Regions from separate parts of the Homo sapiens genome. Here regions 1 and 3 are each linked to region 2. Evidence: fine-mapped expression QTL. A gene starts in region 2. Each other region holds a variant in brackets. All regions are shown on one strand. Distances are between the middles of the regions.

Region 1 (8,186 bases), 570 kb before region 2:
GGCTGGAGTGCAGTGGCATGATCTCGGCTGACTGCAATCTCCACTTCCCAGTTTCAAGTGATTCTTCTGCCTCAGCCTCCCAAGTAGTTGGGACTACAGGTATGCGCCACCACACCCGGCTAATTTTTTTTGTATTTTTAGTAGAGACGAGGTTTCACCTTGTTGTCCAGGCTGGTTTCAAACTCCTGACCTCACGCCCACCTTGGCCTCCCAAAGTGCTGGGATTACAGGCTTAAGTCACCAGACCTGGCCTAATTTAAGGATCTTGAGATGGGAAGATTATCCTGATGGACCCAATGCAATCCTCAGGGTCCTTCTGAGAGGGAAACAGAGGACCAGAGTGGGTGAAGAGGATGTCATGACGGAAGCAGAGGTCACCGTGATGTGGGGTCATGAGCCAAGAAATGCAGGCAGCCTCTAGACTAGAAAAGCAGGGAAATGGATTCTTCCCTGGAGCCTTCGGAAGGAACCCAGCCCTGCTGACCCATTTTACATTTCTGACCCAGAGAATTGTAAAATAATACATATGTTATTTTAAGCCGTTAAGTTTGTTACAGTAGCAGCAGGAAATTAATACATTAACCTCTTTCTACAGTGAGCTTCACGCCACCCAAGCCACCCTGCCCACTTTCCAACCTGAGGCCCCTTCCACCTTCCCAATCAATCTCCCCTGGATTTCCCACATGGAAACCATAACTAGCCTTGCCCTCAGGCTTCCACCAAATTGTTTCCTTGGCATTCCTTCACCTTCTCCTGTTTCCTGACCCTTCCCAGATCTGCATCTCCCTTTAACCTGATAGGTTTTTTTGTTTTTTTTTATTTTGTTTTGAGACAGAGTCTTGCTCTGTTGCCCAGGCTGGAGTGCAGTGGCGCAATTTCAGCACACTACAACCTCCACTTCCCACATTCAAGTGACTCTCGTGCCTCTACCTCCCGAGTAGCTGGGACTACAGGTGTGCACCACCACGCCCAGCCTAACCTGATAGGTTTTTTTGTTTCATTTTGTTTTTTAAGAGCTCAGGCTGGAGTGGTCACAGCTCACTGCAACCTTGACCTCCTGGCCTCAATAGTCCTCCTACCTTAGCCTCCCAAGTAGCTGGGACTACTGGCGTGCATCACCGTGCTCAGCTAATTTTTAAAACAATTTAATTTTGTAGAAATGGGGGTCTCATTCTGTTGCCCAGGCTGGTCTCGACCTCCTGGGCTCAAGTGATCCTCCCACCTCAGCTTCTCAAAGCCATGGGATTAAGGCATGACCCCCATATCCAACCAAACCTGATAGTCTTTAACTCTATCTATTAAAATAATCCGGTGTGAGACATTTAAAAAACATCAAGGTCCCAGCCCAGACCAATGAAGTCAGACTCTGTGGAGGTGGAGCTCAGGTTATCACATAATTTTATAAAGCTCCTCAGGTGATTCTAATGTGCATCCAGCATTGAGAACACCTGCCAACTTGTTGCTCCTCAGTAATCACACTTTAGTATGCGCAAGAATCACCTGGAGAACTCTGAATGTAGATGCCAGGGCCCCACGCCCAGAAAGTCTGGGTCAATACCTCTGATGGGGGCTCAAGATCCTGCTTTTCTAACAAGCTCTCCAGAGGTTCAGATGCAGGTAGCATTTGGAATATTAAGAGACACTTCCATTGCCCTTCTGTCTGCTCCCTTCCCAGGAGACTCAGCTAATTAGATGAGTTCCTTAGATCAATGATCCTCAATCTTTGATGAATATAAGAATCATCTAGGGAGCTTACTAAAAATACAGTTGCCCAGACACCAGTCCAGTTTGTTTAACCAGATCCTACATAACCAGCTGCCCCAGGTGTTAGGATGCATCCTGAAGTTTGAGAATCAACACCTAGAAGAGTGGTCCTCAAACCTGAGCAGGCAATGTAATCCCCTGGGGAGCTTGTTAAAACACAGATTGCTAGGCCCCACCTCTAGAATTTCTGATTCAGTCTATCTGGGGTGGGGCCTGAGAATTTGCAACTCCTAACAAGTGCCAGGTAATACAGAATTGCTAATTTGGGGACCCTAATTGCTTTAGATTGATGTTCTAGGCCAGGTGCGGTGGCTCACACCTATAATCCCAGCACTTTGGGAGGCCAAGGTGGGCAGATCACTTGAGGTCAGGAGTTCGAGACCAGCCTGGCCAACATGGCAAAACCCCCGTCTGTACTAAAAATACAAAAATTTAGCTGGGCATGGTGGTGCACACCTGTAATCCCAGCTACTTGGGCGGCTAAGGCAGAAGAATCGCTTGAACTAGGAGGCAGAGGTTGCAGCGAACCAAGATCGTGCCACTGCACTCCAGCCTGGGTGACAGAGCAAGACTCTGTCTCAAAAAAACAAAGATTGATGTTCTAAGCAAAGTGTTTATCCCACTCTGTCTCCAGTTCATCATTTCTCCTCATTCCCTCAGCCAGCACAGAATTCAGTTGAGGAGACAGAAAGGGCAGAGGGAAGCACTCAAAGAGGTCTTGACTTGAAGGGACTTTCAGAGAAGGACTTCTGGTGAGCTCACCACTAGGGAAACTGGCAAAATTCTAGTAACTCTCTACAGCCAAAGATGGTGGCCAAATTCCAGTGGGAAATAGAAGTAACCTGATCAATAGCTGTTAACTTCACAGATACGTCCAGTTCCAATGGGACTCAAGAGCTTAGAGCTTCCCTGGCAGAATCTCTCAGCCTGTGGTGGTGAGGAGTGTGTAGGTATAGTGAGAAATCAGAGAAAGTTTGAGGCTGGGGGGCCGGGCACGGTGGCTTATGCCTGTAATCCCAGCACTTTGGGAGGCCGAGGCGGGCAGAACACGAGATCAGGAGTTTGAGACCAGCCTGGCCAATATGGTGAAACCCCGTCTCTACTAAAAATACAAAAATTGTCTGGGCGTGGTGGCGTGCGCCTGTAGTCCCAGCTACTCGGGAGGCTGAGGCAGAAGAATCGCTTGAACCCGGGAGGCGGAGGTTGCGGTGAGCCGAGATCATGCCACTGCACTCTAGCCTGGGTGACACAGCAAGACTCCATCTCAAAAAAGAAAAGAAAAGGAAAAGGGGCTGACACTTGTTACATTCGTTCATTCATTCATTCATTTAGAAATAAGGTCTCACTATGTTGCCCAGGCTGGTCTTGAACTCCTGGCCTCTAGCAATCCTCACCCCTGAGCCTCCCAAGTAGGTGGGATTACAGGCATGCACCACCATGGCTGGCTTCACCAAGACAATTAAATGGAAAAACCAAGCTGGAGCTAGAGAGTCCTCCCTCCAATGGCATTAACCCCAGCTTGTACAATACTCTGGAGAGAGAGCTAAAAAGACAGTAGGGTGAGGATGGGAAGAGCCAGGTGAGGGAGAAAGTCATTTTCTTCCCTTTATATGAAAAGAGAATGAGAAATTAAGGGCAACTGGAGAACCACCAAAAAGAGGGAAGGAGAGACTGGGCTAGGAAGCCCACCAGCTGGAGTCCTTACAAAATCTGCTCCATCTCCACAACCTCGTGCCAGAACTTGGTGATGTGCTAAGGGCATGTGATCTGTTGAAACACCAGAAGTCACATTTTTAGGAAGTCAGAAGGCAGACGGCTAGATCCAGCATCTGCTGATTTCCTTATACATGCCACCGACCTATCCACTAACTCATTGCCAGTGCATCACATGACCAGCAGGTTCAGGAGAAATTCCAGGTGTTAGAACCACAGTCACAGGGCTGAACAGGCCTGGGGTATTTCAGAAACAAGCATCACCCTAT[G/A]CAGGCTTGGATATCAGCACTGCGTGGTGATTATGGTGATAGGGAAGTTCTCCAGTTGGGTGGACAGAGTTAAGGAGGTAATTAGCAGAACTAGCTGCCCTGAGGTATTGATCCCCAAGGTTCTACAAGTGGTAACTCTAGCTTGGTCAGCTACCTACTATAAATCACTTACAGCCTCAGTTTCTCACCTGTAAAATTATGCTGTTGCCTTATCTACCCGAAGGCAGGAGACTAAACCAAGTGATATCTCCTTTTCTTCCCGCCCCCAGCCAGGCACCAAGTCTATTCTATCCCCACCAATCTCCCATATTTGTATCCTCTGCTCACATCCCATTGCCATAGCCCTGGCTCAGACACTTTTCAGCTCCTACCTCGCTGATTGCAATAGTCTCCAAACTGGTTTTCCCTGCTGGTAGTCTCACCCAGGCCCAAGAATCTTCCTTTGATCAATTTTTCACACTGCTCCAAAATCTTTAACAATTCCACATCACAAGAAAGTTCAAAGTCCTTCATGTGTCAGGCAGAGTCCTCTAGGCCCGTAGGTTCCAGCTCTTGCCAATCCCTCCAGTCAAATCACTTCAATGCCAGCCCCTACCCCAGCGGCTGGAACCACCTGCAGTCCCTCCGGTGCCCTGGGCTTCCTCCCTCCTCTTCACGTTTGCATGTGCTGTTTCCTCTGCTCAGAGAAGCATTTCTTCCTCCTGTATTTGCCCTTCAAGATTCTCCCCAAGGTCACCTCCTCCACCTTGCTGTCTTAGCCATCCCTGCCCATCTTGTAAATCTTCCTCACCCTGTACTCTATTCATTTGCAATGTGTCTCTTCCCCAACTTGACCCTTATCTCACTGGGGTTGAGACTGGGGCTCTCATCTTTATACCCAATACACAGCACAATGCCAGGCCCATGGCCGACTCCCAATAAGTGTTTGCTATATTAATGAGTGAAGGATGAATCAGTGAATAAATGAAACTTTTGGGTTCTCTTCTAGCCCCTAATCCTCACCAACCTGTGCTAAGAATGCCCTTCTTAGGCCAGCCATGGTGGCTTATGCCTATAATCTCAGCACACTGGAAGGCCAAGGCAGGAGGATCACTTGAGCCCAGGAGTTTGAGACCAGCCAGCCTGGGCAACATGGTAAGACCCTGTCTCTACAAAAGAATTAAAAAAAAAAATTAGCCAGGTGTGGTGGCACATACCTGTGGTTCCAGTTACTTGGAAGGCTGAGGCAGGAGGATCATTTAAACCCAGGAGGTCAAGGCTGCAGTGAACTAGGATTGTGCCACTGCACTCCAGCCTGGGCAACAGAGCAAGACCCTGCTTCAAAAAAGAAAAAAAGAGTGCTCTTCTTTTAGTGGTCCTTTGGTCCTTTTTTTTTTTTTTTTTCTGAGACTGAGTTTTGCTCTTGTCGCCCAGGCTGTAGTGCAGTGGCACCAAACTGGGAAGCTATTGTAGGGTAGACTGGGCTCAACTAATGGTGATGGTGGGGAGGGAGAGAAATGGACGACTTCAAGAGATATCAGTCAAATCCCCAGGATTTGGTGATGGAGGGGATGAAGGAAACCAGGAGAGAAGCATCAGGATGGCCCCAGGTTTCTGGCTTTCATAATTGAATGGATGTGGTGCTATCATCTGAGACAGAAAGTGATGGGAGATGTCTCCACACTGGGGCATGAAGACTCGGCCAGTTTGGGGCAGGTTGACTTTGAGGTCCCCTGTGAGTGACAACCAAAAGGGGTGTCAAGTAGACAACAGAAAATAAGAGTCTGGAGTGCAGAAGAGAGGTCTGGCTAGAGATCAGCTTTGTAAGCCATCTGTTTATTGGTGGTCATTTAAGCCTGGGTGCTAACAAGATCCTAAGGGAGAAAGCTTAGGGTGGGAATAGGAAGTTTAAGATCAGGCTTTAGGAATCCTAACATTTAAGACCGAGTAAAAGAGGTTGAGATTACAAAGGAACCCAAGAAGCCAGAGATGTTAACAATGGCTGTGGAATGCTATGAAAGTATTTTACATTTGTAGCTACTTTTACAATTGAATAAAAATGTTTAGTTTAAAAAGCCAATTTTTTTATGGCTTCTAGAACTTAATTCACTTTCTGGATTTTGAAAAATAGTGCCTGAGGGCAAGAGGTGATAGTCAAAATATTTAACTATCAAGATACCCCAGTAGGACACTTTCGCCTGAGCCAGCTGGAGGAGGGAGGATCTCAGAGGCCTTTGCTGTGCCACAGGCATTAACCCTGTGGTTGCTGGATCATGAAGAAGTGGAGAGAGGCTGATGGCAGGGGCCACGCGGAGAGGATCTCAGGACAGCATCTGTTTAGTCACTGAGCAGAACCAGTGCCTGCTGCTGAGAATCAGTCCTGCAGCAGGGTCATCACCAGCTGGATCCCACCAGATCCTTCCCCACCATCTCCACCTACTCATTGCCCCCCAGAGTTCTCCACCACAATGGACTATTCCTCATTTCCTTAGAACACCTCACCTTTTCATGCCTCCATGAACTTCCCTACGCCTACAATGCCTTTCTTCTAGTTTGGCAAATTTCTGTGTGTATTTGAATGTCCAGGTAAAATATCACCTCTTCTGTAAAGTCGTCATTGACTTCACCAGGCAGAATCAATTGCTTCTTCATTATTTTTCCATGCATTTTATGCAGACTTAGTATAGCACTTTGCAAAGTGGTGAGCTCCTTGAGGACTAGGACTGCCTCATTTGTATCTAAAATAATGTCCTGTGTATGGGTACTTTAAAAAAATGACAAAGGGCCGGGCGCAGTGGCTCATGCCTGTAATCCCAGCACTTTGGGAGGCCGAAGCAGGTGGATCATGAGGTCAGGAATTTAAGATCGGCCTGGCCAAGACGGTGAAACCTCGTCTCTACTAAAAATAGAAAAAAATTAGTGGGGCATGGTGGCAGGCACCTGTAATCCCAGCTACTCGGGAGGCTGAGGCAGAGAATTGCTTGAACCTGGGAGGCAGAGATTGCAGTAAGCCGAGATTGCGCCACTGCACTCCAGCCTGGGCGACAGAGCGAGATTCCATCTCAAAAAAAAAAAGAAAGAAAGAAAGAAATGACAAAGATTGTTGAATGAATCTCAATGTGACTGAAACCTCAAAAAGAGACCTAGAACATCCTTTTTTTTTTTTTTTTTTTTTTGAGATGGGGCCTCTTTATGTTGCCCAGGCTGTTCTGGAACTCCTGAACTCAAGGGATCCTCCCACTTTGGTATCCCAAAGTGCTGGAATTTACAGATGTGAGCCACTGCACCTCGCCTAGACCATCTTTTCCCTCAATTTGTTATTAAAACTCAGCAACCTCACTGACACATGCTATGCCATGGATAAAACTTGAAAACATCATGTTAAGAGTGAAAGAGGCCAGTCACAAAGAACCACATATTATAGGATTCTATTGATATGAAATGCCCAGAATTGGCAAACCCACAGAGAGGACAGAAAGTAGTAAATTAGTGATTGCCTAGGGCTGAGGGGGTTGGGGAGAAAAACGGAGTGATTGTGAGTGGGTACAGGATTTCTTTGTGAGGTGATGAAGTGTTCTAAAATTGATTGTGATGTCTCACAATTCTGTGAATCTACTAAAAACCATTGCATTGTACACTTCAAATGGTGCCAGACGTGGTGGTATGAGCCTGTAATTCCAGCCACTCAGGAGGCTGAGGTGGGAGGATCACTCTGGCCTAGGAGTTTGAGATCAGCCTGGGTGACAGAGCAAGACCCTGTCTCTAGAAAAGAGAAAGAATAAATGGGTAAGTTGTATGATATATGAATTATATCTCAATAAAACTGATTTTTTTTCTTTAGAGACAGGGTCTTGCTCTGTCACCCAGGCTGGAGTGCAGTAGTGCAATCATAGCTCACTGCAGCCTCGAGCTCCTGGGCTCAAGCAATCCTCCCGTCTAGGCCTCCCACAGTATTAGGATTACAGGTGTGAGCCATTGCACCTAGCCCAGAATTGATTTTTAAAAAACACCTCAGCAACTCCTCTTACTTCATCTAATTCAAAGGGAGGGCTTAAATGTTTCCTTCTTGGAAGGAAGGTGGACCCAATGGGAGTGAGTATGGAGGGGTATAGGCAGGGGTGCTGCTGTGGTCAGCTTGGGAAAGATAGGGCATACGTGGAAAGCAGGCTGAGTGCTGTTAATATAATGGGCTGAGAATACTTCAGAAAGAGGGGTTCTGGTGAAAACGGAAACCACTTCAATGAAACCAGATTGCAGCAGAAAGGCTGAGGTTACTGTGAGAACAGTGAAGTTTTACTTTGAAACCAATGGCTGAGTGTGGTCTCCTCATCTGGCCTGGGAATCTTCTAGGAGGAAAGAATTGTTATCTAGGAGAGGATTAAAATTCTGATAGATGAGGCTGGGCGCAGTGGCTCACGCCTGTAATCCCAGCACTTTGGGAGGCCGAGGTGGGTGAACCAC
Region 2 (8,186 bases):
TTATATAGTGTTTGTTAAGTCTGCAGTAGTATACAGTAATGTCCTAGGCCTTCACAATTCACTCACTACTCATTCCTTCACTCACCCAGAGCAACTTCTAGGCCAGCAAGTGCCATTCATTGTGAGTGCCTTCTACAGGTGTACTATTTATCTTTTATGCCATATTTTTACTGTACTTTTTCTATGTTTAGATACACAAGTACTTACCATTGTGTTACAATTGCCTACAGTATTCGGTATGATAACATGCCATACCTGTTTGTTGCCTAGAAGCAATAGGATATACTCTATATGACTTAGGTATGTGGCAGGCTACGCTATCTAGGTTTGTGTAGATACACTATTTGCATTTCCATCACATTTAGTGATGTTGAGCATTTTTTCATATATCTGTTGGCCATTTGTATACTTTCAAGAAATGTCTATTTAGATCTTTTGTCCATTTTAAAATCAGATTATTTGTGGGGTTTTTTTTTTGGATTTTTTTTTTTTTTTTGGTGTTGAGTTTCTTATATACTCTGGACATTAACCCCTTGTCAGATGCATAGTTTGTAAATAAAGACCATGTATGACAGACACACAGCTAACATACTGAATGAGGACACGTTGAAAGCTTTTTCTCTAAAATCTGGAACAAGACAAGGATAGCCACTTTCACTACTTCTAGTCAACATAGTACTGGAAGTCCTAGCCACAGTAATTATGCAAGAGAAAGAAACAAAGGGCATCTAAATTGGAAAGAAAGAAGTCAAACTTCCTGTCTGCAGATGACATGAATTTATACACACAAAACCCTAAAGATTCCACCAAAAAACTGCTAGAAGTAATAAATTCAGTAAAGTTGCAGGATACAAAAGCAACATACAAAAATCAGTAGCATTTCTATATGCCAATAGTGAACTATCTGAAAAAGAAAACAGCAATCCCATTCACAATTGCTACAAAAAACAAAACAAAAACCCTAGGAAGTTTTAACCAAGTAGGCAAAAGATCTCTACAATGAAAACTACAAAACATTGATGAAAGAAACTGAAGACACAAATAGTATCCTATGTTCATGGATTAGAATAATTAACATTATTAAAATGTTCATACTTCCCAAAGTGCTCCACAGATTCAACACAATCTCTATCAATATTGCAATGACATTCTTCACAGAAATAGAAAACCCTCAAATTTATAGTTTTAGTTCTTACATTTAGGTCTTTGGTCCATTTTGAGTTATTTTTTGTATATGGTGTGAGGTAAGGGTCCAACTTCATTCTTTGCATGTGGACATTGTTTTTCCTTGTACCATTTGTTTAAAAGACTATATTACCCCCTCCCTCCCACATCCCAGTAGATCATCTTGGCACTCTTGTTAAAAATCAGTTGACCGTAAATGTAAGAGTTTATTTCTGAACTCTCAATTCAATTGATTATTTTGATCTATATGGCTATCTTTATGTCTTTATTACTGTCTTCGTTACTTGATTACTGCAGCTTTGTAGAAAGTTTTGAAATTGGGAAGTGTGAGTTTTCCAACTGTTCTTCTGTTTCAGGATTGTTTTGGCTACTCTGGGTCCCTTGCATTTCCATATGAATTTTAAGATCAGCTTGTTAATTTCTGAAAGAAAAAAAAAACAGTTGGGGTTTTCATAGTGATTGCTTTCAATCTGTAGATCAATTTGGGGATGAGCAATACATTTGATTGTATTATTGTCAGAAATATGTTGACTTTGGAAGTAACAAATTAGCTAATTAGAAACAAGTCTTTTGGAGTAATGAGAAAGGAATTTGTTGAGCTAGTGCATCATTTAATGGAGGCCTTTGAAACTCAGACTAAGGCATTCAAATTTTATTAGAAAGATATTTTTATAGTTTTTTTCCCTGAAATTGGTTTGCATATGTAGATGATTTTATTATGATTCCAGTACTATTATATTTTCCATACCACTAAAGAGGGCTTTTTCCATACACAAGTGGATGTTTTAAATCAGTCAAAAAGAATGCCTTTCAAACAGAGTGGCCACTGCTAAGCACTGTAGGAGAATAAAAGAACTGTAACACACACACACACGGGAGGCTGAGGTGGGAGGGTCACTTGAACCCGGGAGGCAGAGGTTGCAGTGAGCCGAGATCATATCATGCCACTGAACTCCAGAGCAAGACTGTCTCAATAAAGAAAAAAAAAAAAAAAAAAAGGCCGGGCATGGTGGTTCATGCCTGTAATCCCAGCACTTTAGGCGGCTGAGACAGGTGGATCACCTGAGGTTAGGAGTTCAAGACCAGCCTGGCCAACATGGCCCTGTCTCTACTAAAAATACAAAAATTAGCCGGGCGTGGTGATGGGTGCCTGTAATCACATCTACTCCAGTGGCTGAGGCACAAGAATCACTTGACCACAGGAGGTGGAGGTTGCAGTGAACCCAGATTGCGCCACGGCACTCCAGCCTGGGCTACAGAGTGAGACTCCATCTTAAAAAAAAAAAAAAAGAAAATTGTAACATACAGCCCTTGCTCTCAGGTACCCTAAAGTTGAATGGAGATTAATTATGTTTAAGGAGGTGACATCTGTTATTTATCCTTGCTTGCCTAAGACCTTGAAGCAAAGTACTAAGTAGACCAAGATCATGAGCGATTTCTGGAAGAACAGCTCCCTATTAAAGACTTGGCCTAACCCAGCTTATTATGTAGAAAGAGTCTGTCATTTGCAAGTGGGATAGCTGTCTCAGTGCAAATTCACCCAAAACTCTCACTTGGGAAAAAAAATCCAGAGAGAAATCCTTACTCAGTAGTGCCACAGTAGTTTTATTTTGAGAACCTTTATTACCTGTAACACTGCAACTTTCAAAAAATATTTCTCAATATTTATAATGTTTCTTTATTCATATAAATAAAAATTTTAAAATTTGACTCTGGTAACTATTTCCTAAGCAAAGGGCTTCCCAGGGAGAGTGGTTATGCGTGTGTATATATTTTAATTGTTTTGAAATGATCTCGAATGTATAGAAAAGTTGCCCAAATCGTGTAAGGAAGTCCCATGTCCCCTGCACTCAGATTCCCAAATAGTTAACACTTTATTGCACTTGTTCCATTGCTCACTGTGTGTGTATGTGTGCAGGTGTGCATGCATGTGCATATGTGTGTGTACATGTGTATGTATCCCTTGTTAGTCTTTTTCTGGACCTTTTGAAAGTCAAGAGAGCAAATTGAAGAGATGGTGTCTCATCACTCCTAAACACACTAGTGTTTATTTTCCCCTAAACAGGGACACTCTCCTACCTAACAACAAACAAACTTCCACATCAGGAAATCAATATTGGTACAACACTACCATCCAATTCAGATGAGATTGGGCATGTTCGGGGTGGTATGCGATTCACAGAGCTAATTCACATTTTTCCCACCGTCCTAACAATGTTGTTTTCCTTTCTGGTCCAGAATGCTATACAGAGATACATATTGAATTTAGTTGTCATATAACCTCAGTCAGAGACAGTTCCCAGTCTTTCTTGTCCTTGGATGGTCTACAACCTGAGTTCCTTTCATGGTAGGAAAACCAAAAAGGATGCTTTGTGTGTGTGTGTGTGTTTTTTTTTAGTGTGTTTCACCAGGAGGCTCACAATGTAGACTCCTCCCAACACTGGTGATGTTAACCATGATCACCTGATCATGTTGGTTGCGTCCATTCACTGTTTCCCCCTCTGTAATCAAGTAGTATTCCATGGAAGCATTCCAAAATCACGCCAGTATTCTATGCCTCATAGAACATCTACCCACCAGCCTTAGCGTCCATTGAAGACTCCTGCCTGAGTCATCCTCCTCAGTAGTTGTCAAATGGTAGTTCTCTATTTCCATCCTTCTCGCTACACTTCTGGGTTGGCATCCTACTTTGAAAGAGTTTTCCTTTTTCTCTGTATCAACACGGACTTGCATATTCCTATTTTATTCAATGGGTTGTAATCCGTTATCGTCGTTGTTTACTTCATGCTCAAATTGTCCCTTATTTGGCCCATGGGAGTCCCTTCAAGCTGGCTCTTAACACTGCAACAATTTAAAGTATATATACTGCTAAAATTCATCCGTGTTGTGTGTATGGCTGCAGTTCATTAACTTTGACTGCTTGTAATATGCCATTTTGTGAATATGCCACAGTTTATTGGTCCACTCATCCACTATTCCTTCGACGGGCACTTGGGTTGTTTCCAGGTTATTGCTATTGTGTTTTGCTATTCTAGCTCTTTAATGTTAAATTTTGAATATTAAAAATTTGTATTAACATCATAAACTTCAGGTCTGTTTATTGTACAAATATTGAGCACCTAGAAGCAGGGTCATTTTGCACTCTCATCAACAGGGCGTGACGGGCTCATTTAAAAAATATTGCATATTTCACGGAGAAATATTTAAATGATGTTTTCAAATCAGTTTAATAAAGGCCTTTTTCTTTAAACTTCCTTTTGCTTTTTTCCCTCCTATTATAGAGAAATATTGAAATCAAAGAGTCGAGAAAGCAAAATGTAAAGGTGGAAACCTATGCACTTAAACCCAACTCTTGGCAAGGTAAAGCATCCGCGGAAACAGCAGGCTCTCGAAGTGAGGAGGCTGCAGCCGGCGCTAGGGCGCAGGCGCAGAAGCTCAGCGTCTCGCTCCCTGCTCCCGGCCCCAGAGGGTTATCGCGAGTCTTGGAATAAACTTGCTCGTGCGATGGCCAAAAGTAAGTTCTCGCGAGAGGTAGTTGGTTGCTATAGTTGTCAAAAACATAACTGAGGCTGCTGCAGGTAAGACAGTGATCCCTCCTGAAGAAACTCTCTCTTCCCGGCCTCCCCACCTCAGCCCTGCGGCCACACCACAGCCGTCACCCCGATCTTCTGCTCCCTTAGCTAAGGCCAGGCTGAAAACCCCGATATTTAGACCGAAAAGCCGCTGGCCCGGCCAGGTGCGGACTCTGCCGCCAACCCCAGCCCGGCGACCTCCACAGGAGCGCGGACGTAGACCTTCCTTTACCGCTTCTCGTCGGAGGCCTCCTCATTCTGCGCTGACTGCGCTTGTCCCCAGACCAGACTCAGTCACATCGCCTCCTTCGTCTAACCTTTTTCTCACTGGACTCTCCCCTTGCAGCTTCTTCCGAGCAGATGACAAGAAATGCGTGCCTTGCCGGGGGCAACAAGAGTCCCCACCCTAGCTGCCCTGACTATAACTTTAGTCCTATATCTTGCATTCATAATTCAAACACGACGCGAACGCCTGTTGTGTACAAGACATGGTGCCAGGCACTCTGGGCCCGTAAATATGCGTGAGACAGGTTACATGCCTTCAAGGGTGTAAATGAGCTCTCAGGACAAACGCTGCATATTAATAATACCATTTGTGCAGTGCTTCATACTTAAAAAGCTTTAATATCTTAGGGGATATTCACAATAAATGTGAAACAGGTTGGAAGTTATCCATTTTACAGAAGGTGAAACTGAGGCTTAGAGAAGTTAGGCATTTGCCTAGGGGCACATAGTTGTTAAGTAGGAAAGGTCTTTTGAATACCCAGTCTTCATAAACAGGACAGCTTGTGGTAATGCCACAAAAGACGTGTAAAGTGCTAAATGAATTCAGAGGAAAGGCAAGTTTTTCCGACTGGGAAGCTTCATGGACTAGGAAGCATTTGAGCTGGATTTTAAAGGATGAGTAGGATTTGCTGTAGAGACGGAGTGAGGAGAAAGGGAGAGATAATTCCAGGGGGAAGGAAAAATGCAAAGGTTCAAAAGCGACTAAATGCAGGTAATCTTTGAAAAATACTAAGCAAGAGCATAAGCTAGAAGAGGGGAGTTGACTGGCACTGCAAGATCCTAGAAAGCCCTGAATGTAGTACTACATTTAACTACAGTTAAACTGTAGTGTTACAGTTTATTTGGTAGGTGAGAGGGAACAAGACAGTGATACGATCAGATCTGTACTTTAATAAGGTATTTATCTGCTTGTCTCTTCTCATTTTCTCCCTATTTCTTCTTACTCCACCACTGCAAGCTACTTGCTACTTGCTATGTGTGTTGTTTTGCCTCTGAACGTTTTAAAATCTGTTCCCTTTCTTGGAATATCCTTCCCTTTATTAAGACATAGTTCCAGCGTACTTCCTCCAAGATTTTCCTGGCATGCATATGTATTCTCAAATCCAGCTAGGTCCCAGCTTCATTCAGCACTTCCTTGCTGTATGACTGCTGGTAAGATAACAAACTTCTCTGAAGCTCAATTTTTTTCAATCAAATAGAGATTTAAGAATCTCTTAGAAGGGAGGCTACATTTAAGATAATAAATGCGAAGCACACTTGGCACACTGGCTATAATCAGTTAATTTCCTTGCTTCTCTCATTCTTTTTATTTGTAAAAGAAAAAATAAATTTCCACCCCCCTTTTCCTCCCTGTGTGTTTCACTCCTCCCTTCTTTCCTCTGTCAGAGCACCTGTCTCACAGATTATGACTCCTGGTCTAGTTACACGTCTCTCGTCCTCACTAGATTTTAAATTTCTTGAGGTTAGAGAGTTCACATCTTATCTCTTGTATCCTCAGCACCCATCACAGTGCCAAGCTTAACAAGTTTTTTCAATGAGCAATTCTGACAAAAGCAGGATGAATTAGAGTGAGAAACTGGAGTCAGAGACACCAGTTAGGAGGCTTTTGTTACAGTCTAGCAGAAGGGTAATGAAGGCCTAATGCCATATTATTGAAAAGGAAAGAAGACTGATACAAAAGGGCATTTCAAATGTACATTTGACAAAGAAGTTGTCAGTGCCACTAAAGCCCTTAAAGAGCCCAGAAATATGTTGTTGAACAAATGATTTGACACTTTTAGGTGACTGGAAAAATGCTGGAGTAGCTGAGAAGAGGCAGGATAATTATAAAGTCTGAAGGCTGTAAGATGTTGTTTTCTCTTTTGTATCACCAAGTACACTTAGCATAGTATGTCCTCAGTAAATGTTTGAATTGAGTTAGAAAATAAGGCCTTTTCAACAGGCACAGTGGCTCATGCCTTTTAATCCCAGCACTTTGGGAGGCTGAGGTGAGTGGATTGCTTGAGCCTAGCCGTCGAGACCAGCCTAGACAGCATGGTGAAACCCTGTCTCTACAAAAAATACAAAAATTAGCTGGGCGTGGTGGCGCATGCCTGTAGTCCCAGCTACTCAGGAGGCTGAGGTGGGACAATCACTTGAGCCTGGGAGGTTGAAGCTGCAGTGAGCTGTGATCACACCACTGCACTCCAGCCTGGGTGACAGAATGAGAGCCTGAAAAAAAAAAAAAGGAAGGAAGGAGAGATAAAAGACCTTTTCCAAAAAACAAATATCCAATTTATTATCGAAATTGTTTGTGCCCTTAGTATTGTAAAATTGACAGTATATCTGACTAAATAAGAAATACATTAAGACCTTTTCCAGTGGACTACCATTTTGTGTGGCTGCTTCTTTCCTGCTCTCAAAATATATTTTTGTAAAACTGAGAAGTTAAATAATGTTTGAAGGGAGCTTTGCAGATTAAAAAAAACGGTTACCAGAGAACACTGTGAACAGTGTATGGCAGCAGTCCCCAACCTTTTTGGCACCAGGGACCAGTTTCGTGGAAGACAATTTTTCCACAGACTGGGGGCAGCGGGGATGATTCAACCACATTACATTTACTGTGCACTTTATTTCTATTAGTATTACACGGTAATATATAATGAAATTTTTTTGTTTTGAGACGGAGTCACTCTTTTGCCCAGGCTGGAGTTCAGTGGTGTGATCTCAGCTCACTGCAACCTCTGCCTGCCGTGTTCAAGCGATTCTCCTGCCTCAGCCTCCCAAGTAGCTGGGACTTACAGGCATGTGCCATCACACCTGGCTAATTTTTGAATTTTTTAGTAGAGATGGGGTTTCACCGTATTGGACAGGCTGATCTCGAACTCCTGACTTGGTGATCCGCCCGCCTCGCCTTCCAAAGTGTTGGGATTACAGGCGTGAGCCACCGTGCCTAGCCTATATAATGAAATATTATACAACTCACCATAATGTAGAATCAGTGGGAGCCCTGAGCTTGTTTTCCTGCAGCTAGACAGTCCTATCTGGGGGTGATGGGAGACAGTGACAAATCAGGCATTCGATTCTTATAAGGAGTGCACAACCTAGATCCTTTGCATGCATCAGTTACAATAGGGTTCGCACTCCTGTGAGAATATAATGCTG
Region 3 (8,178 bases), 790 kb after region 2:
GTGGTATTGCTTTATATAGATTTATCATACTTTAACCAATCTCTCTTGGTGAACATTGGGGTAGTTCTTAGTGTTTTGCTATTATAAACTATGATATAATAATTATGCACCATATACATGTGCATAATTTCACAAGTGTGCAAGTACATCAGTAGGGTATATTATTAGAAGTGGAATTTCTAGGCCAGTATATGCAGATTATATGAGTAATTTTAATGCAAATTACCAAATTGCCCACCATAAATTGTACAGATTTGCATGTTCATCAGTAGTGCCATTCTGCAACATTGTCAACAAATGTGTTTTCAAACTTTTTGATTTTTGCCCGTTTGATGGGTGAAAAGTATCTGAGTATAGGTTTAATTTGCATTATTTTATTATGAGTGAGATTAAGTATCTTTTCACAGTTTTCGGAGCCATTTTTCTTTTCCAACTGTCTTTTTATATCTTTACCCAACTTTCTGTTGGTTTGTGAAGTAATATTTTAATAATATTTTATTATTATCATTTTTAATATTTACATTCCATTCCATTATGTTATTATAGCATCATTTATTTTTCTGTAGTTGGGCATTTGATCTACTTTTAGAGTGTGGCTGTTATATTTTTTCTGCTGAGAACAGTTATTAAACAGGTTTTTCTCATTAAGTTTATTTGGGAGTCAAAAATGCAAGGATCTGTTATAGGTTTTTGTACTAATTAGCTATGAGGAAATCACATAACTTATCTGGGTCTGAGTTGGTAAAACTCAGAACTTTCAAAGTTTGAAATCCCCTAGAGCCATAGCATATAGAAATGGATTGCCCAAACTAATAAATCTTGAATACTTTATATGATCTTAGTCTTTTCTCCTAAATGAAATTAATTAAATTTTGTTATAGTGTTTTCTACCAAAGATATGAGAGTGCTAAAGAGATAAAAGGAACCCTAAGCTCACCTACGCAATTCTTTCATTTTACCAGTGAGTGAGCTTTTTTCCCAAGGAGGAGGGATGAGCTTCTTTAGTATATACAGCTAGCTGTTGAGTAGTACAGTTGAGACCAGATCTTGGATCATTGGATTTCTGCCATACTACTTAGTGTTTGTTTTTTTTTTTTTACCATAGTACCTAGTGTTGTTGTTATTGTTTTAATTTATTTCTCCTTTTTATCTTCCATATCTCCTGTGCAATTAGATATTAATATGTGTTTGATACCAATGTCTTTATCATTATTTTTTTTTTAGAGGTGGGGTTTTACCATGTTGCCCATGTTGGACTTAAACTCCTGGGCTCAAGCTATCCTCCCACCTCAGCCTCTTTAAGTAGCTGACGTGTGCCACCATGCCCAACTACATTTTGTTTTTCTTTGGAAATTTTTTGTTTGATTCTGTTTTTTATTTCTACACTTATAATCTAGGCACTCATCACCCAATACCTAGGTTATTAATGCCTTCTGGCTGTACTCATCACTTTCCTGTCAGCTCTCTCTGCCTTTGCTTCTTTGCAGTTTATTCCATGCACTGCTAATAGATAGACTGATAATGCTTTAACCCGTTTTTACCATGATCTCTTCCTATTAAAGAACTTGAGTGGCTTCCTATTTTACATATGCTCTAAATTCTTGGTCTGGCATTCAAAGGTCCTTCTCAAGTGATTGTGGCTTACTTAGTTGATCATATGTCTAGCTGTTCTCTACATCTGATCAGATGTTGTAAATTTATCTTCCAGGCTTATATACCCCTTGCCTGTTAGAACTTTTGGCTTTTTGAGGTAGGGTCTTACTCTGTCAACCAAGCTGGAGTGCAGTGGTACAATCTCGGCTCACTACAACCTCCGCCTCCTCGGTTCAAGTGATTCTTTTCCCTCAGCCTCCTGAATAGCTGGAATAACAGGCGCCTGCCACCAGGCCCAGCTAATTTTTGTATTTTTAGTAGAGACAGGGTTTCACCATGTTGGCCAGGCTGGTCTCGAACTCCTGACCTCAAGTGATTTGCCCGCCGTGGCCTCCCAAAGTGCTGGGATTACAGGTGTGAGCCACTGCACTCATCCTGTTCCAACTTTTGAATTGGCTGTTATTTATTTTAAACATTGAAAACTTCCAAGTGTCTGTTCTTTCTGTTGTCAGTGATGAATAATGTTTCCTCCAGATATGCATGTTTTAGTTTAGTGCTCATTTTTGCTGTAGCGAAGAGCAGTGCTATTTATGTGAGTGTACATGTGGATTTGAGAAATGTTAATTTTGAAATGAACCAAAAAAAAAAAAATCAGAAGTTGCCAGACAGGAAGAAAATATAATGGACAGCCTCCTGGGTGCTGGATTTTGCTAGAGTATGTGCAATAAAATGAGATGATTTCTGGGATTGGGGAAGGATATAAGAATTGTGTTATTAAAGCTTAGGTCATGGAAAATAGGAGAAAAGATTAACAGTTTTTCCATTTTGTCTATATGAGGGCAAGATTTAGGTCCAATTTCAAAATTGGACCTAGATTGGATGAAGGGAGCTAGGAGCAAAGTTTACATAAGAGATTATAGGTATAGGTCCCAGGGAAGAGTTAATAGTAACCAGCTCATTGATTTTAGGAGATGCCTAAGTAGTCTAACCTGACTTGAATCCAAATAATAGAAGACAGTTTTCTAAGTAAATTAGGAACTTAGAGTATACTTAAATGTTAGGAGCAAGTACCTGTATAGTTTGTACACAGACATGTGAAAGTAAAATGGTTAAGTATTTTAAGCACTAATAATGTAACAAGTCCTGTGCTAGACTATGTGTTTACAACTTGAAAAAAAAAATAATTTGGGCCTTGAGGCAAGGGGAGAAAAAATTACGTATGCCATAGGAAGATATGTACAAAGTGCAAAGTAGTTTAAATTAGGAATCAGTGGGCTGGGCATGGTGGCTCACACCTGTAATCCCAGCACTTTGGGAGGCCAAGGCGGGCAGATCACTTGAGGTCAGGAGTTCGAGACCAGCCTGGCCAATATGGTAAGACCCCGTCTTTACTAAAAATATAAAATTAGCTGGGCATGGTAGCACACTTCTGTAATCCCAGCAACTTGGGAGGCTGACGCAGGAGAATTGGTTGAACCCAGGAGGTAGAGGTTGCAGTGAGCCAAGATCATGCCACTGTACTCCAGCCTTGGCGACAGAGCAAGACTCCATCTCAAAACACACACACAAAAATTTAGGAATCAGTGAACTGTGCTTTGAGAAAAATCAAAGGGGGCATGGATTCTTTGTATAATTTGAATGAATTACCTCTACAAAAAAGTGGGACTGTAAAGAAATGCCTCTTCTTCCATCAGCCCATCTGGTGCATTAAAACAGTGAGGTACTATACTGAGCCCTGAAGGTCATAATCTAGAGGGAAAAAAATCATTTACATTAATTCTCTGGATGGAGGTGCCCGAAATGATCCTATGGTTTTGGGGGTGTCTCAACATTTCTCTGACTTAATCAAAATTTTACACCATTCTGAGGCTTAAGACTAAACAAAAGCTTTTGCTGACTAACCCAGTCTCAACTTTATCTTTTTTATTTGTAGTTTTCTGTCATTTCTATCATAATATTTCTATACTTCAAGATATAATTTTAGGCCGGGTGTGGTGGCTCACGCCTGTAATCTCAGCACTTTGGGAAGCCGAGGCAGGTAGATCACCTGAGGTCAGGAGTTTGGGACCAGCCTGACCAACATGATGAAACCCCATCTCTATTAAAAATGCAAAAATTAGCCAGGCATCATGGTATGTGCCTGTAGTCCCAGCTACTCAAGAGGCTGAGACAGGAGAATTGCTTGAATCCGAGAGGCAGAGGTTGCAGTGAACTGAGATCATGCCACCACACTCCAGCTTGGGCAACAGAGTGAGACGCCATCTCAAAAAAAAAAAAAAATATATATATA[TA/A]TATATATATATATATATATGCATATATATGATTTTAGAAATGTATTGTTTTAAAAGTGTTTTGTATTTATCTTGTTTAATTAGAATGTAGATAGTTTTTGGCTTTCTGGGTCTCACATAGGGATGTATATACAGTATGAATTTAATAAATTTTTGTTGAATAAGAACTTCCCAGCCAGGCGCGGTGGCTCATGCCTGTAATCCCGGCACTTTGGGAGGCCGAGGCGGATGGATCACTTGAGGTCAAGAGTTCGAGACCAGCCTTGCCAACATGGTGAAACCCTGTCTCTACTAAAAAAACAAAAATTAGCCAGGTGTGGTTGTCGTGTGCCTGTAATCCCAGCTACCCAGGAGGCTGAGACAGGAGAATCGCTTGAACCCGGGAGGTGGAGGTTGCAGTGAGCCGAGATTGCGCCACTGTACTCCAGCCTGGGTGATAGGGCAAGACTCAGTCTCAAAAAAAAAAAAAAAAAAAAAAAGAATAAGAACTTCCCAGTAATTATCTTGGATGCTGAATTAGTTGGCTATTGATGGGGCAACAAACAACACCCAAATCTTTGCAGCTTACAGTTACACACATTTATTTCTCACCAGCATTCTACAGGTCAGCTGTGCTCAGCTGGCTCAGCTGGGCTTGACAGTGGTTTATTCCAGGCTGAAGTCTGTTCATTATGGATGCCAGTTTGAAGGATCAGTGTCTCTTTGGGACATGGTCTTCCCTCGATGGAGTGCAGGAACACAAGAAAACTAACAGCAGCACCTCCTAAAAGCACTTCATGGAACTGGTCCACATTCCATTGGTTAGAGCAAGACATATGGCAAGACATACGCCAAAAACTTAAAGAGAAGGAAATTTATGACCTGGCATTCATATGCAGAAGGGGAAGAAAAAAGTAGAAAAGTAATTTTGCCTAAGGGATGGGGGATGGAAGAGTAAGTATTTATTGAACAGTAATATGCACTAATACAGATGTTTCAGATTTAAAACAAAACATTAAAAGAATTTTTTTTTAAGTGAAGTTTGAACTATAGAGAATCTGGTAGGGAGGAGGGCTTCCAAGGACCTGGGTGTGAAAAATATTTAATAAAAACTTCAAAGCAGTGTCAGCATTATAAGGTAGGGGGCAGCAAAGTCTCCCCTCCTAGGTTGAAGTCTCCCTACCTAACTCCGAGACATTGAAGTATGGAATTAGTCCTCCCTAGGTTCAAATTCTAGATCTATCACTTCCTACCTTTGTACTCTTGAGCAAGTTATATTTTAGATCTGTAAAATATGGGTACCAGTTATCTTTTTTCATTTCAGCTCTAAACACATCTTTCATTGTCCCGTTTGTGATACTGGAAGTTTTTCCCTTGCCAGTTACTGTTAAACTTTGTCAGTAGAGAGACTAGAAGGACCCTGGAGGAGGGGTGTTTCTTGCTGAGTCTAGTGTGCCCTTTGTGGCTTGCTTCTATAGCATGCAGGAACTAGTGGGACACTCAATGGCACCCAGCTCCTAAGGAGTTTTAGCAGCAACTCTCATATGCAATTTCCTAGTGAAACTGCCTCCCCATGGGTGGCTTCCCCTGGCATCGCGAAGGTCAGCTTCCCAACAAATTCCGCTGGCATGAGTTGTCCAGTAGATGACTTGTTCTGGCATCACAGAGAGTGGCTTTCTAGTGCATTTTGCTGGCATGGCACCTTAGTAAGTTTCTCTGACATACATAGCTGTGCCCTCTCCACACAGTCTGATCTCTGCCCTGTGAGTGAGAGTAGACCTTTTATAGACTGGTCTTTTCTTGGTGCTCTGTGTCAGATCTAGAATAGTAACTGCTCCCTATATCTGCTATTTCTTTAACTTCTGAGTAGTAAATTTCCTGTTGTAACTAATAATTTTTTATTTTTTATTTATTTTATTCATTTTTTTGAGACAGCATCTTGCTCTGTTGATCATAGCTCACTGTCACCTCAACATCCTGGGCTTAAGTAGTGCTCTCACCTCAGCCCCCTGAATAGCTGGGACTACAAGTGCATGTCACCATGCTTGGCTGATTTTTTTTGGTAGAGATGGGGTCCTACTATGTTGTCCAGGCCGTTCTTCAACTCCTGGGCTCAAATGATCCTCTCTCTTTGGCCTCCCAAAGTGCTAAGATTACAGGCATGAGCCACATACCTGGCCTTAATAATGTTTTATATTAAAAGTTTCATACTCAAATTATCATGTGGTTTCTGTCTTCTAATTGTACTTTGACTAATATATCAGTTTTATAAGTAGTACTTTGCTCATAAGATTATTCTGAGGATTAAATGGGATAATATAAGCAAATTGTTTAGAATAGTGCCTGTCATAGAGCAATTACTTTAGTGTTTATTAGAAATGTTGGTAGGATCATCATCATCATCATCATAACTACCACTAGCTAAGAGTGACATTTCTACTTATTGTCCACAGGATGTTTCGTCTGAACTCACTTTCTGCTTTGGCAGAACTGGCTGTGGGTTCTCGATGGTACCATGGAGGATCACAGCCCATCCAGATCCGGCGAAGACTAATGATGGTGGCTTTCCTGGGAGCATCTGCAGTAACTGCAAGTACTGGTCTTTTGTGGAAGAGGTGAGTGTTATCCAACCATCTTGTTCTTGCGTATACTTTTATTCTTCCAGTCATCTCTGTTGTCAGAAAGGAGTTGATTTCTGGCTTAACTCTGTATCAGAATTTCTTGCTCGGATCATTTGGTATTGTTAATATTCGTCTATGAAATAAGATGTTTCAAAGAATTCAACATGCTAAGGCAATACTTAGGAAACACTGTGCTTCAAGGTCTGCCTGTCTCCTCTGCTGAACATTTTAAATAATGGGATAGGGATAGCAATAGCAGCTTTAGAAAATGAAGGCTTTCTGGCCAGGCGCGGTGGCTTACACCTGTAATCCCAGCACTTTGGGAGCCCAAGGTGGTTGGATCACTTGAAGTCAGGAGTTTGAGACCAGCTTGGCCAACATGGCAAAAACCCATCTCTACAAAAATACAAAAAATAGCCAGACACAGGGCGTGAGCCTGTAGTCCCTGCTACTTGGGAGGCTGAGGCAGGAGAATTGTTTGAACCTGGGAGGCAGGTGGAGGTTGCAGTGAGCCAAGATTGTGCCATTGTACTCCAGCCTGGGTGACAGAGAAAAACTGTCTCCAAAAAAAAAAAAAAAAAAAAAAAGAAAATGAATGCTTTCTGAGACTTCACAATTTGGTGACCCTGTGAAATTAACAAAGGAACCTTGGTACTTTAGTGTCCCTGATAATTTTTTTCACTAGTTATGGAAACTTCCTTGGAAAGAAGAGAAAATGTAGTGAGCCACAGTCTTCTCTTTCTTAAAATACATAGTTACTGTTTTTCTGACTCTGTCACTCTCTGTTTTTTATTTTTGTTTGTTTGTTTTTTTGAGATGGAGTCTTGCTCTGTCGCCCAGGCTGGAGTGTAGTGGCATGATCTCAGCTTACTGCAACCTCTGCCTCTGGGTTCAAGCAATTCTCAAGTAGCTGGGATTATAGGTGTGCACCACCATGCCCGGCTGGGATTACAGGTGTGCACCACCATGGCTAATTTTTTTTTTTTTATTATACTTTAAGTTTTAGGGTACATGTGCACAACGTGCAGGTTAGTTACATATGTATACATGTGCCATGTTGGTGTGCTGCACCTAGTAACTCATCATTTAACATTAGGTATATCTCCTAATGCTATCCCTCCCCCCTCCCCCCACCCCACAACAGGCCCCGGCGTGTGATGTTCCCCTTCCTGTGTCCATGTGTTCTCATTGTTTAATTCCCACCTGTGAGTGAGAACATGCAGTGTTTGGTTTTTTGTCCTTGCGATAGTTTGCTGAGAATGATGGTTTCCAGCTTCATCCATGTCCCTACAAAAGACACGAACTCATCATGTTTTATGGCTGCATAGTATTCCATGGTGTATATGTGCCACATTTTCTTAATCCAGTCTATCATTGTTGGACATTTGGGTTGGTTCCAAGTCTTTGCTATTGTGAATAGTGCCGCAATAAACATACGTGTGCGTGTGTCTTTATAGCAGCATGATGTATGATCCTTTGGGTAATTTTTTTTTTTTTTTTGTATTTTTAGTAGAGATAGGGTTTCACCATGTTGGTCAAGCTGGTCTTGAACTCCTGGGGTCAAGTGACTTGCCCACCTCAGCCTCCTAAAGTGTTGGGATTACAGGCATGAGCCACCATGCCCAGCCTCTAGAGCTATCTTAGCCCTATTAATATAGCATGATCTTTCTGGGATGTTACTAAATGCCTTGGGT

Which allele goes with the higher level. Positions count from the first base shown, and alleles are read on the strand shown. Sizes are in standard deviations (SD) of each study's normalised expression. Not every link is listed here.
For the expression in monocytes of the gene that starts at base 4,613 in region 2, A is the high allele of the variant in region 3 and TA is the other (large effect, 2.3 SD a copy in Quach 2016).

Evidence for each region.
Region 1: its variant is fine-mapped to the expression of CFAP70 in whole blood (INTERVAL, PIP 0.99).
Region 3: its variant is fine-mapped to the expression of CFAP70 in monocytes (Quach 2016, PIP 0.95).

Annotation. Positions count from the first base shown.
Region 1 is chr10:73,921,958-73,930,143 of GRCh38, reverse strand. C10orf55 (chromosome 10 putative open reading frame 55) reads left to right here and starts at 7,367. Exons shown (of 5, transcript NR_160938.1): 1 at 7,367-7,511. The variant G/A (reference allele first, on the strand shown) is at 3,747.
Region 2 is chr10:73,355,291-73,363,476 of GRCh38, reverse strand. CFAP70 (cilia and flagella associated protein 70) reads left to right here and starts at 4,613. Exons shown (of 28, transcript NM_001367801.1): 1 at 4,613-4,699. RefSeq lists enhancers at 4,419-4,944, 4,789-5,008, 4,945-5,470.
Region 3 is chr10:72,564,933-72,573,110 of GRCh38, reverse strand. It overlaps MICU1 (mitochondrial calcium uptake 1), which reads left to right. Exons shown (of 12, transcript NM_001195518.2): 2 at 6,317-6,478. The coding sequence starts at 6,318. Among named protein-coding and RNA genes, the nearest start is that of MICU1, 57 kb to the left of the region's middle. The variant TA/A (reference allele first, on the strand shown) is at 3,884.